Homo sapiens: one gene and its partners. The gene in region 1 interacts genetically with each later gene. Each region holds a gene or a part of one and is shown in the gene's direction. Other genes may lie near its edges.

Region 1 (3,654 bases):
GCCAACATGGTGAAACCCCAACTCTACTAAAAATACTCTGCTAAAAAAGTGGAAAAAAGGGCTGGGCGCAGTGGCTCACACCTGTAATCCCAGCACTTTGGGAGGCCGAGGTGGGCAGATCACCTGAGGCCGGGAGTTTGAGACCAGCCTGACCAACACGGAGAAACCTCATCTCTACTAAAAATACAAAATTGGCCCGGCATGGTGGCGCATGAATGTAATCCCAGCTGCTGGGAGGTTGAGGCAGGAGAATCGCTTAAACCTGGGAGGCAGAGGTTACGGTGAGCCGAGATTGTGCCATTGCACTCCAGCCTGGGCAACAAGGGGGAAACGCTGTCTCAAAAAAAAAAAAAAAGTGGAAAAATAAATAAATAAATAAATAAGTGGTTTTAAGATTGTTCTTAGAACCACTGTGATATTCTGACTCCCTCATTGACTTTTGGATGGAATGAGTAAGGGTTTATCAGGTGGACAAGAGTGAGAAAAAACATTCAGAATAGAAAGGGAGCTTCATATGCAAAGGCAAAGAGGCAGCAAAGACCATGACTTTAAAAAGTAGGAATGATGTGGCGTGGTGGCCCACACCTATAATCCCAGCATTTTGGGAGGCCAAGGCAGGCAGATTGCTTTGAGCTCTGGAGTTTGAGACCAGCCTGGGCAACATGGCAAAATGTTGTCTCTACAAAAAATACAAAAAAATTAGCCAGGCATGGTGACTCATGCCTGTAGTTCCAGCTACTTGGGAGGCTGAGGTGGGAGGATCGCTTGAGCCTGGGAAGCAGATATTGCAGTGAGTCAAGATTGTACCACTGCACTCCAGCCTGGGCGACAGAATGAGACCCTGTTTCAAAAAAAAAAAAGGAACTTTTTAACTTTTTAGGGTCTTTTATTTTATTTTATTATTATTATTTTTTGAGCCGGTGTCTTGCTCTGCTGCCCAGGCTGGAGACCAGTGATGCAATCTTGGCTTACTGCAACCTCCACCTCCTGGGTTCAAGCAATCCTCCTGCCTCAGCCTCCTGAGTAGCTGGGATTACAGGCCCCTGCCATCATGCCCAGCTAATTTTTGTATTTTTAGTAGAGTGGGGGTTTCACCATGCTGGCCAGGCTGGTCTCAAACTCCTGACCTCAGTTGATCTGCCTGCTTTGGCCTCCCAAAGTGCTGGGATTACAAGCATGAGCCACTGCCCCCAGCCGAGGGGCTATTTTAGACAAAGAATATGTGTAGCTTATATGGGGCACCAATGGCTGCCACCCAGCTTGAAAAATAACATCACCAAAACTGAGGCTGCATGTATGTATGCCCTTCCCTGTTAGTTCCCCCACACTCCCTGCCGCTTGCCACTATTCTCAATTTTTTTGTGTGAGCTTCTCTGGGGTATAGTCCTAGAAGTGGAATTGCTGAAATATAGGATATGAAGTGCTTTAGCTTTGTAAGATAATGCCAAATTGTTATTCAAATTCATATTAATTTAGATACATACCAGCCACTTGGTCTGCATTTTTTACCAACTTAAAAACAATTTTTTTTTTGAGACAGGGTCTTACTCTGTTGTCCAGGCTGGAGTACAGTGGTGTGATCGTGGCTCACTGCAGCCTTGACCTCCTAGGCTCAAGTGATCCTCCCACTTCAGCCTCTCAAGTAGCTGGGACTACAGGCACATGCCACCATGCCCTACTAATTTTTAAATTTTTTGTAGAGATGGAGTTTTGCTATGATGCCCAGGCTGTTCTCAAACTCCTTGGCTCAAGTGATCCTCCTGCATCGGCCTCCTAAAATGCTGGATTATAGGCGTGAGCACCTGGCCTTTTAAGTATTATCAGATTTAAAGTGTTTTGCTATTTCAGGAATGTAAAGTGGTATATCATTATAATCTTATTTTGTAATTTTCCTGATTATTAATGAAGCTAATAATCTTTTCATATATTTATTTGCTGTTTATGTTTCCTATTCTGTGAAACACCTATTCATCTCTGTTGCCAATTTTGGGGAGGGGTTATATGTCTAGTTCTTATAGTTTTGTAGCAGTTATTGTATACTCTGGATATTACTCCTTTATATTAGTTATATGTGCCTCAAATATTTTCTTCTGGTTTGTGCCTTATCTTTTCCCTCTTTTTTATGTTGTCTTTTGAACAGGCATTTTTAATTTTAACATGGTTGAATTCACCAATTTTTTAAAGAGGTTTTGCTTTTTGTTTCTTGTTTAGGTACTTCTCCCTTATGCTGAGTTTATAAAAATACTCTCCTGTAGCCAGGTGCTGTGGCACACACCTGTTGTCCCAGCTACCCAAGAGGCTGTTGTGGAAGGATTGCTTGAGCCTAGGAGTTTGAGTCCAGCCTGGGCAACATGGCAAGACCCTATCTCTAAAAAAAAATCAAAAAGAAAATATTCTCATATATTAGCTTCTAAGAGATTTCAAGTTTTGCTTTTCATATTTAAATAACCTGAGATATATTTTTGGTATTCCATTAAATAAGAATACAATTTATTGTTTCTTTTTCTCCTGCTTTTGTTGGATATAGACAGAGTTGCCAAGTGATACAGTGACTCCTCTTTGGATCCTGTTGAGGTAACTGGGATGCCACAAAGCACTAGGGGAATGTTCTAGACCCAGCTTTAAATGGACAGTGGTTTCAAGGGTACATGTTACTCAGAGTCTCTGGGCCAGTGGCTTATCTGGCTAAGGGTGTTAGTTGGTATTTATTTAGTTGTTCCCTCTCTTATTTATTTTTTTCTATTAATTTTTCATTTGTGTGGGTACATAATGAATGTATTTCTCTTGTTATTTCTGACACAAGATAAATCTTAAGTTCGTTTCTACTATACTTTTATGAGGTTTCTGCAGGCCTTTATGACCTTGTGACAAGGGATTTCTTGGCCATTGGCTACCAGGCAGCAAGTGGTTCATCAGTTTCCCATCTGAAGCTGAAGGGCACAACTGTTTGGAGATTCCCTGAGTGAGGGGACATACTCAGAGACCTAGAAGGAGATTAGGCAGCTCTGCATAGTACTTGAAAATAATTCCTCTTCATTCCCTAGATGTTTCTTTTTTTTTGAGACAGAGTCTCACTCTGTTGCCCAGGTTGGAATGCAGTGGCGCGATCTCGGCTCACTGTAACCTCCACCTCCTGGGTTCAAGTGATTCTCCTGCCTCAGCCTCCCAAGCAGCTGGGATTACAGGTGTGTGTCACCACACCTGGCTAATTTTTGTATTTTTAGTTGAGGTGGCGTTTCACCATGTTGGCCAGGCTGGTCTTGAACTCCCAACCTCAGGTGATCTGCCCACCTCAGCCTCCCAGAGTGCTGGGATTATAGGCGTGAACCACTGCGCCCAGCCCTAGATGTTTCTTTTTTACAATGATTTTTTGCTTAGACCTTTGCTGTCTTAGAAAGTGGTTACTTCTTTTCTAAAGGGCTTATTCATTTTTAGTCAATCAGCTGATTAAAATTTAAAAGTAGTTAATAGGTAATATATGTTTGTGACACAAAATTCAAAAGGTAAAAAAGAATATACAGAGAAAAGTTAGTCTTCCTTTCACTCCTCCACCACTCAGTTCCATAGTCATCCAGTTTCTTTCCCTGGAGGCCGTAACCTCTTAGCATTTTCTTACAAGTCCTTCCAGAGACCTAGAGCATATTCATCTTGCCT
Region 2 (3,654 bases), on another chromosome or scaffold:
TGAGAAAACTGAGCAACGCAGACTAACACTTGATCCAGGTAGTACAGTGGCAGAGGCCTGATTCTAACCCAGGCAGTCTGGCTCAAGAGTCCAAGCTCTTTACCACTACTCTTTCGTCTTCCTTTCTTCCTTTCCCTCCCACCCTCCTTCTTCCTTTCCTTTCTTTTCTCTCTTTCTTTTCCTTCCTTCTTTTCTTTCTTTTTCCTTCCTTCCTTCCTTTTCTTTATTTTTCCTTCTTCCTTCCTCCTTCGTTCCTTGCTTCCTTCTTTCCTTTTCTTTTTCTTTCCTTTCCTTTTTTTTTCTTTCCTTTCTTTTCTTTCTTCTTTAACTTTTTGAGACATTGTCTCACTCTGTCTCCCCAGGCTGAGTGCAGTGGTGCAGTCATGGCTCACTGCAGCCTCAACCTCCCTGGGTCAAGTGATCCTCCAACCTCAGCTTCCTGAGTAGCTGGGTCTACAGTTGCACACCCCACCATGCCTAGCTAATTTTTTCTATTTTTCATAGTGACGAGGTCTCACTTTGTTGCCTGAGTTGGTCTCAAACTCCTGGCCTCAAGCAGTCTTCCCACTTGGCCTCCCAAAGTGCTGAGATTACAGGTGTGAGCCACCACGCCCAGCCTTTTACCACTACTTTAAATTCCATTTAGATCTAATATTGATAGAGTGATAACCATATCAACCAGATTTTTTAAATATGCAAACAATGGTGCCAGTTTCTGTATCTATGTGACAAAAATATATAGAGTTTGTGGTATCACTTTTACCTGTTTAGAGCACTCTTTGGAAAGGCAGGGAAATTACTGTGAAGGTATTGGTATTCCAGAAGTAAGTTCCTGGAGTGTTTGCCTTCTAAGGTGTGAGGACGTGGTTTGTCACACCCAGTTAACTAACAGATAGACGGTGTAGTGAGCTGTCCGGAAGACTTAGCAGGTTAGCCTAGGGAGGAAGGAGAAAGGGGTTCTGGGCACATGGAGGGAGGGGGAGGGAAAAGAGTTTGTTTGAATCTGTCCTAGATTGGGGTAGCTTTTTCGGAGGGAGGCCTTGTCGTGTGGACCTGCTGCATATAAAGACAGGAGAATTGGACCTGAGGTGTGGTGCTAGCTAAAGCGCCACACAGATCTGGGAATTTAAGAGGAGTTCATTTCCTCAATCATTAGGAAGAACTTGAAAGGGTAGCAAACTGTGGTCATTTGAGAAGAACAGCAAGTGGTCATATTTGAATGTAACATATTCAACTGGGTTGGGAAAGAACCAGAATCTAGATCTTGCCCATAGCAAGTGCAAAACCAGGCGTTCTTATAAACCATGTACTCTTGTAAACACTGATAAGACATAGCACTGAGTCCTGAGCTTTTCTTCTATAAAGTTATTGTACAGGTTGAGGATCCCTAATCCGAAAATCCAAAATCTGAAATGCCCCTGTGAGCATTTCCGTTGAGTGTCATTGGCACTCAAAGTTTTGGATTTTGGACCATTTCAGATTTTGAACTTTCAGATTTGGGATGCTCAACCGGTATATAATGCACATATTCCCAAATCTGAAAAAATCCCAAATCCAAAGCATTTCAGCTCCAAAGTGTTTCAGATAAGGAATATTCAACCTGTACTACATTGTACTAGGCTTGTATTAGATTCCCAGTTTTCAAAATTTGTATCTCAGAATCCCTGTTCTCTGTCAATGAAACAGGGATTTCATACACCTTTGATTCACATTTTAATGTTTTAAGTTTAAAATATTATAAATGTTTATACACAGTCAAATGAATCTCATGCTAAATTTTAATATATTAGAGACAACTGATTTGTCTGCCAGGTTATCTCAAGAGAGTTAATACTGAGTGAAAACAAGTGAGAACCCTAAAAGATTACATACTGTATGATTGCATTTATGTAACATTATTGAAATAACAAACCTGCAGAGATGGAGAACAGATTTAGTGGTTGCTAGGAGTTAGGAATGGGAGGTGAGGGGTGGTGTGGTTATAAAGTGGTAGCATGAGGGAGCTGTGTAGGGATGGAACAGTTCAATGTCTCAGGTGTGATTATACAAAGCTGCAAATGTGATAAAAACTTCATACAACCACACACACACATACTGCATATAAATCCTAGCGTACTCAAGTCCCATTTTGCATACAAAACTGGTGAAACCTGAATAAACTCAGGATTGGAGGAATTTGGGCGAGGGTACTTGGGACCTCCCTGTGTACTTTTTTGTAAATTCCTGTGATTTATAATTATAGTAATTTTAAAATAAAAAGTTGGCCAGGCACAGTGGCTCATGCCTGTAATCCCAGCACTTTGGGAGGCTGAGGCGGATGTATCACGTGAGGTCAGGAGTTCAAGACCAGCTTGGCCAACATGGTGAAACCCCATCTCTACTAAAAATACAAAAATTAGCCGGGCATGGTAGTGGGTGCCTGTAGTCTGAGCTACCTGGGAGGCTGAGGCAGGAGAATCACTTGAACCTGGGAGGCAGAGGTTGCAGTGAGCTGAGATCATGCCACTGCACTCCAGCCTGAGCGACAGAGCAAACTCTGTCTCAAGAAAATAAAATAAAATAGACTGGGTGTAGTGGCTCACGCCTGTAACCCCAGCACTTTGGGAGACTGAGGCGGGTGGATCACCTGAGGTCGGGAGTTGGAGACCAGCCTGACCAACATGGTGAAACCCCATCTCTACTAAAAATACAAAATTAGTCGGGCATGGTGGTGCATGCCTGTAATCTCAGCTACTCGGGAGGCTGAGACAGGAGAGTTGCTTGAACCCAGGAGGCAGAGGTTGCAGTGAGCCAAGATCACGCCATTGCACTCCAGCCTGGGCAACAAGAGTGAAACTCCGTCTGAAAAATAAAATAAAATAAAATAAAAAGTAAAAAAGCAAAAAAAAAAAAAAAGTGCATTTAGAATATTTGAGAGAAAATAAGCAAAAGGAAGAAAATGTAAATTATCTATAATGCTTACACCCAGGACAATAATCCTTGGAATAGAGTGTCTCACTTTGTGTATAGAAATGAAACTTTTAAAATGCCATTTTATTTTTTAATTAAAATTTTTTCTTTCCTTTTTTTTCCTCCTCAGAGTTAGAAAGGATAAAAATGTTATTGATTAGTAAGACTGTAGCTTTATGTTGATATTTTGAAATTTTAGGCTAGTGCTTGTTTGTTCATGTAACATATAAGCACATTCAGTACTATTAGAACTGTTGCATTATGCAATAACATGACTGCCTAATGCATATATCAGGATTAGTACATATTGTAAAGTTTTTATTTTTTACCAAAATGTTTACGACTACCAAGTATTCATTCCTTAACACTATTACATAATTAATTTAGAAATGTTTTACTTTTAAAACTTCTGGACAGGTGTAATTAAATCCTTAGATAGCGTTAATGTACTATTTAAAAAACACACACAAAACATTATCATTGGCAAAACATGCTTTATCATCTATTCATCTTTGTGAATCCGGTTTTTCTTGATACCATGCCATCAAAACAAAACAAATTTGACATAAGACTGCCCAATCATCCATAATTTAAAGTTGGTGTTCGTCAGAAGAATTTTATTGTTCTCATTATACATGTTATACATTTGAGCTTTTTTTTTTTTTTTTTTTTTTGGAGATGGAGTCTCACTCTGTCACCCAGGCT
Region 3 (3,654 bases), on another chromosome or scaffold:
GACCCTGCAGGGCAGTGCTTAAAATGCCAGCACGTTTTGGTGAGTAGGGCACAGTAACAGCTGATAATTTTGATCTTGATATCAAACCAGTTGGAAACTCTGCTTTGGCTCTAGAGTTAATATGTAGTTGTAATCCATCCTTCATCCTCACCCCCATCCCCTAATGAAATACTAATTTTGCATCACATGCAGATGGGGGCTGTTAATCTTTATCTGCCAAAAACGAAGATTTTAGCACTGCACTTTGGAGAAAGTTTAAGTACTGTAATTATTAAAGAACACATCTGTGTTATGTTGTATATGTCATTAATATATGTGAACAGATAATAAGCATGTATCTCCTTTTTATATTCCTACTTTAGGAATTTGATTATGTTTTCTCAATTGATGTCAATGAAGGTGGACCATCATATAAATTGCCATATAATACCAGTGATGACCCTTGGTTAACTGCATACAACTTCTTACAGAAGAATGATTTGAATCCTATGTTTCTGGATCAAGTAGCTAAATTTATTATTGATAACACAAAAGGTCAAATGTTGGGACTTGGGAATCCCAGCTTTTCAGATCCATTTACAGGTAAGTTAGTGTTTATATTGAGTCTTATGTAGTTCCATTAGTGTTGATTGATTTTTTTGATGTTTTCAAATAGTCATGTGATTAGCTTTTTCAATAAATACCAATATCTACAGCAGGGTTTTACTTCACATTCATATGTTTAAGCCTCAAATGATGAAGTAATTCTGTATTTTACAGAAATAATAGTAAATTGTTGTCTTTCAAAAATACAATCATACTATAATGGAATTTCAGTTATTTGAAACAAAAATAAACTTGTAAGTTCTTTTATATAGTGTTTCTTTTAAAAAATTATATTTTGGCAAAATTTAGTAAATCTTTTTTTCACATGAGGCTAAATTGGTCAGTCATGCATCAAATCTAAAAGTGAACCCTATGGGTAGTTTTAGTTTATATGTGATGTGTATTCTACACGTTCATTTTAAGTTAATTGTTTGTAACATCGTATACATCGTATCTCATGTTATAAATGCAGTTAGGTGCTCATACCAGTCTGTAAATTGTAATCCTAATGGTACTAGTCCAAATTCTGGCCCCTAGGAAGTGGAATCTAATCCTAGTAATATTAACGTGAGTTCTGGAGACTGGTGTAGGAGGAAATAAAATGCCTCCTCTAAATAACATTTTGAGATAGGCACTTTACTGTTAATGTTTTCCTCTCATCATTTCTGACTCAACATTTTTCAGGTGCTAGTGCTCTTCCTTGTTTTACGAGGACTTTGTATTATATTCCTGTCTCAAATCCTTATGTAGATCCACCTTTTCTTCCCTGACAGCTACTCCACATTCCCAAATTATCTCCTCATTCTACTTCAAAATTTCATTGCCCATTCATAAAATAAAACTAATGTTACCTGCATGTTGATTTAAATAGAATTATCAGGCCAGGTGTGGTGGCTGACGCCTGTAATCCCAGCACTTTGGGAGGCCAAGGCAGGCAGATCACAAGGTCAGGAGTTCAAGACCAGTCTGGCCAACATAGCGAAACCCTGTCTCTACTAAAAAAAAAAAAAAAAAAAAATACAAAAAATTAGCCAGGTGTGATGGATGTGCGCCTGTAATCCCAGCTCCTTGGAAAACTGAGGCAGGAGAATCACGTGAACCTGGGAGGCAGAGGTGGCAGCGAGCCAAGATCGCACCATTGCACTCCAACCTGGGCGATAGTGCAAGATTCCGTCTGAAAAAAATCAAAAAATTTTAAAAAAAATTATCAAAGTAACTTACTACTGAATTACAGATGATCTGATCCTCCAAATACTTGCACTTAAAAAGAAAATAATTGTTTAGTATGTGGATATTTTTGTTGTTGGAATTTCAGACTGTAGTTCAAGAGTGAACACAGATTGTAGTACTGTGTAAGCTATTTTGCATGTGGGATACAGGAAAGGAATTAAAGCAGCTGACTTTGTCTGGAAATCTAGGAAGCACTTGGCTTGTTTTGCCCTTCTGAGACTCTTAACTTTTTCAGCATCCTTACTGTTTTTTGTTTTTTGTTTTTTGTTTTTTTTGTGGACAACCTGATTATTTCCCTAGAGGTACTAACAAAACATAGGCACATACGCCACACATTCGTAAATGTATAAATGGAAGTCTCTTTCCTTTGTAGTTTTCATCCCTTTTCTAATTCTCTTCTCCAGTAGGTTGTAAGCTTCAGTGGATATAAGCAATTTTGTTCCCTTCTGGATCCCCAGCCCTGAGTCCATTGTTTGACACATGAATTAATGAACCTAGAGCTCTAAATGATTAACATTTAGTGCCTGTGGTTTTGATAACAATAACAACAGCAGGAACTCTTGTGAATTTGTATAGGAACAGGGACAGGAATTGATTGTATGTTTATATATTTAGGTCAGATATTACCTGCAATTCTCTTTTGATATTTGAATTAAGTTTTAATATTTAAGTGCTGGGGCTAAGGTATAATAAAGCATTAAAGTTAAGAAAACAAAACTTGGAGAATCATTAAAATTTCAGTTTTTTCCCAGTTATAAGACTTCTGACTATAGTTTCTGTCATTCTATCATGTGAAAGTTTTGCTCTTCTGTTTTTCTCCAAATGTAGGTTCTTCTAAAACAAGCATTGTGCTGTTTGAAAAATTCAGAACTTTGGTGCACTTCTGCCTTTTCTTTATTTTGCATGCACAGGTGGTGGTCGGTATGTTCCGGGCTCTTCGGGATCTTCTAACACACTACCCACAGCAGATCCTTTTACAGGTGGGATGTAGTTTTGATTCATGTATCTTTCTTCACTAAATGTATAGCATCTTGCATCACATGGCTTTACATCTTGGAGATGTCATCCAGTAATTGGTAATTCCCTTATCTGCATTTCCAATTTTGATGGATTTCCTTTTCTTTAACTTCTGATTTTTGCTTTTTCCTGGAGTGGTTGTGTAGATTCCCTCGTGACTTTTAAATAGCATATTATTAGAATTCATTGTTTTCTCCAGGGGTCCTTCCCACCAGGAGAGCAGTATAGTTAAGAATATAGGTTTTAGAGTCAGACAAACCTTGGTTCAAAATTGGGCTCTACCACTTACTTGCTATGAGAAGTTGGCAAGTTACCTAACCTGTCTGAGCCTATTTTTTTTATCTGTGAAATTAGATAATAGGGGAACCCACCAACCAAGACACAGCATGAGTGCTATCACTGGCGAGATGCTACCAATCACGAGCAGAGAAGGAGCCATGTGAGCCCTGATATTGGATGGAGCAGTACAATCAAGAAGTCTCCCCAGGCATATTTTGACTTAACATGGAAGGAGACATTCCACCCAACTACCCAGGAGTAGTCTTCCTAATCTAAGTTATTAATGTCCTTCTTGAAGCCCTTGAAGTGTTGGTGTATCTCTTCAAAATGAATTTATTTACCAAGGTATGCATGCCTCAGCATCAACACTACTGGAAAAAGTGCCAGAGTTGGACTTTAAGGCAGCTGAAGAAGTCTCTATTTTCAGAATGGCTTTTGATATCTTGTATAATGCTGTTGTTGGATCTTCAGACAGAGTTCCTCGACAGTATACTCAGTTTGGGAAGAGATCATAGCGTTTAGGTATCCACTGGCCTTGCAGAC

The links.
Region 2: changes in GBF1 (region 1) and VKORC1L1 together harm fitness more than expected from each alone (negative genetic interaction), as found in Homo sapiens cells (one study listed by BioGRID).
Region 3: changes in GBF1 (region 1) and PLAA together harm fitness more than expected from each alone (negative genetic interaction), as found in Homo sapiens cells (one study listed by BioGRID).

The regions. Positions count from the first base shown.
Region 1 is NC_000010.11:102,251,999-102,255,652, forward strand, and holds part of GBF1 (Golgi-specific brefeldin A-resistance guanine nucleotide exchange factor 1), read left to right. Parts: intron 1-3,654. UniProt on the Homo sapiens protein: Guanine-nucleotide exchange factor (GEF) for members of the Arf family of small GTPases involved in trafficking in the early secretory pathway; its GEF activity initiates the coating of nascent vesicles via the localized generation of activated ARFs through replacement of GDP with GTP.
Region 2 is NC_000007.14:65,879,536-65,883,189, forward strand, and holds part of VKORC1L1 (vitamin K epoxide reductase complex subunit 1-like protein 1), read left to right. Parts: intron 1-3,654. UniProt on the Homo sapiens protein: Involved in vitamin K metabolism. Can reduce inactive vitamin K 2,3-epoxide to active vitamin K, and may contribute to vitamin K-mediated protection against oxidative stress.
Region 3 is NC_000009.12:26,916,238-26,919,891, reverse strand, and holds part of PLAA (phospholipase A-2-activating protein), read left to right. Parts: intron 1-362; coding exon 363-582; intron 583-2,643; coding exon of another isoform or gene 2,644-2,726; coding exon 2,727-2,795; intron 2,796-3,186; coding exon of another isoform or gene 3,187-3,275; exon of another isoform or gene 3,276-3,654. UniProt on the Homo sapiens protein: Plays a role in protein ubiquitination, sorting and degradation through its association with VCP. Involved in ubiquitin-mediated membrane proteins trafficking to late endosomes in an ESCRT-dependent manner, and hence plays a role in synaptic vesicle recycling.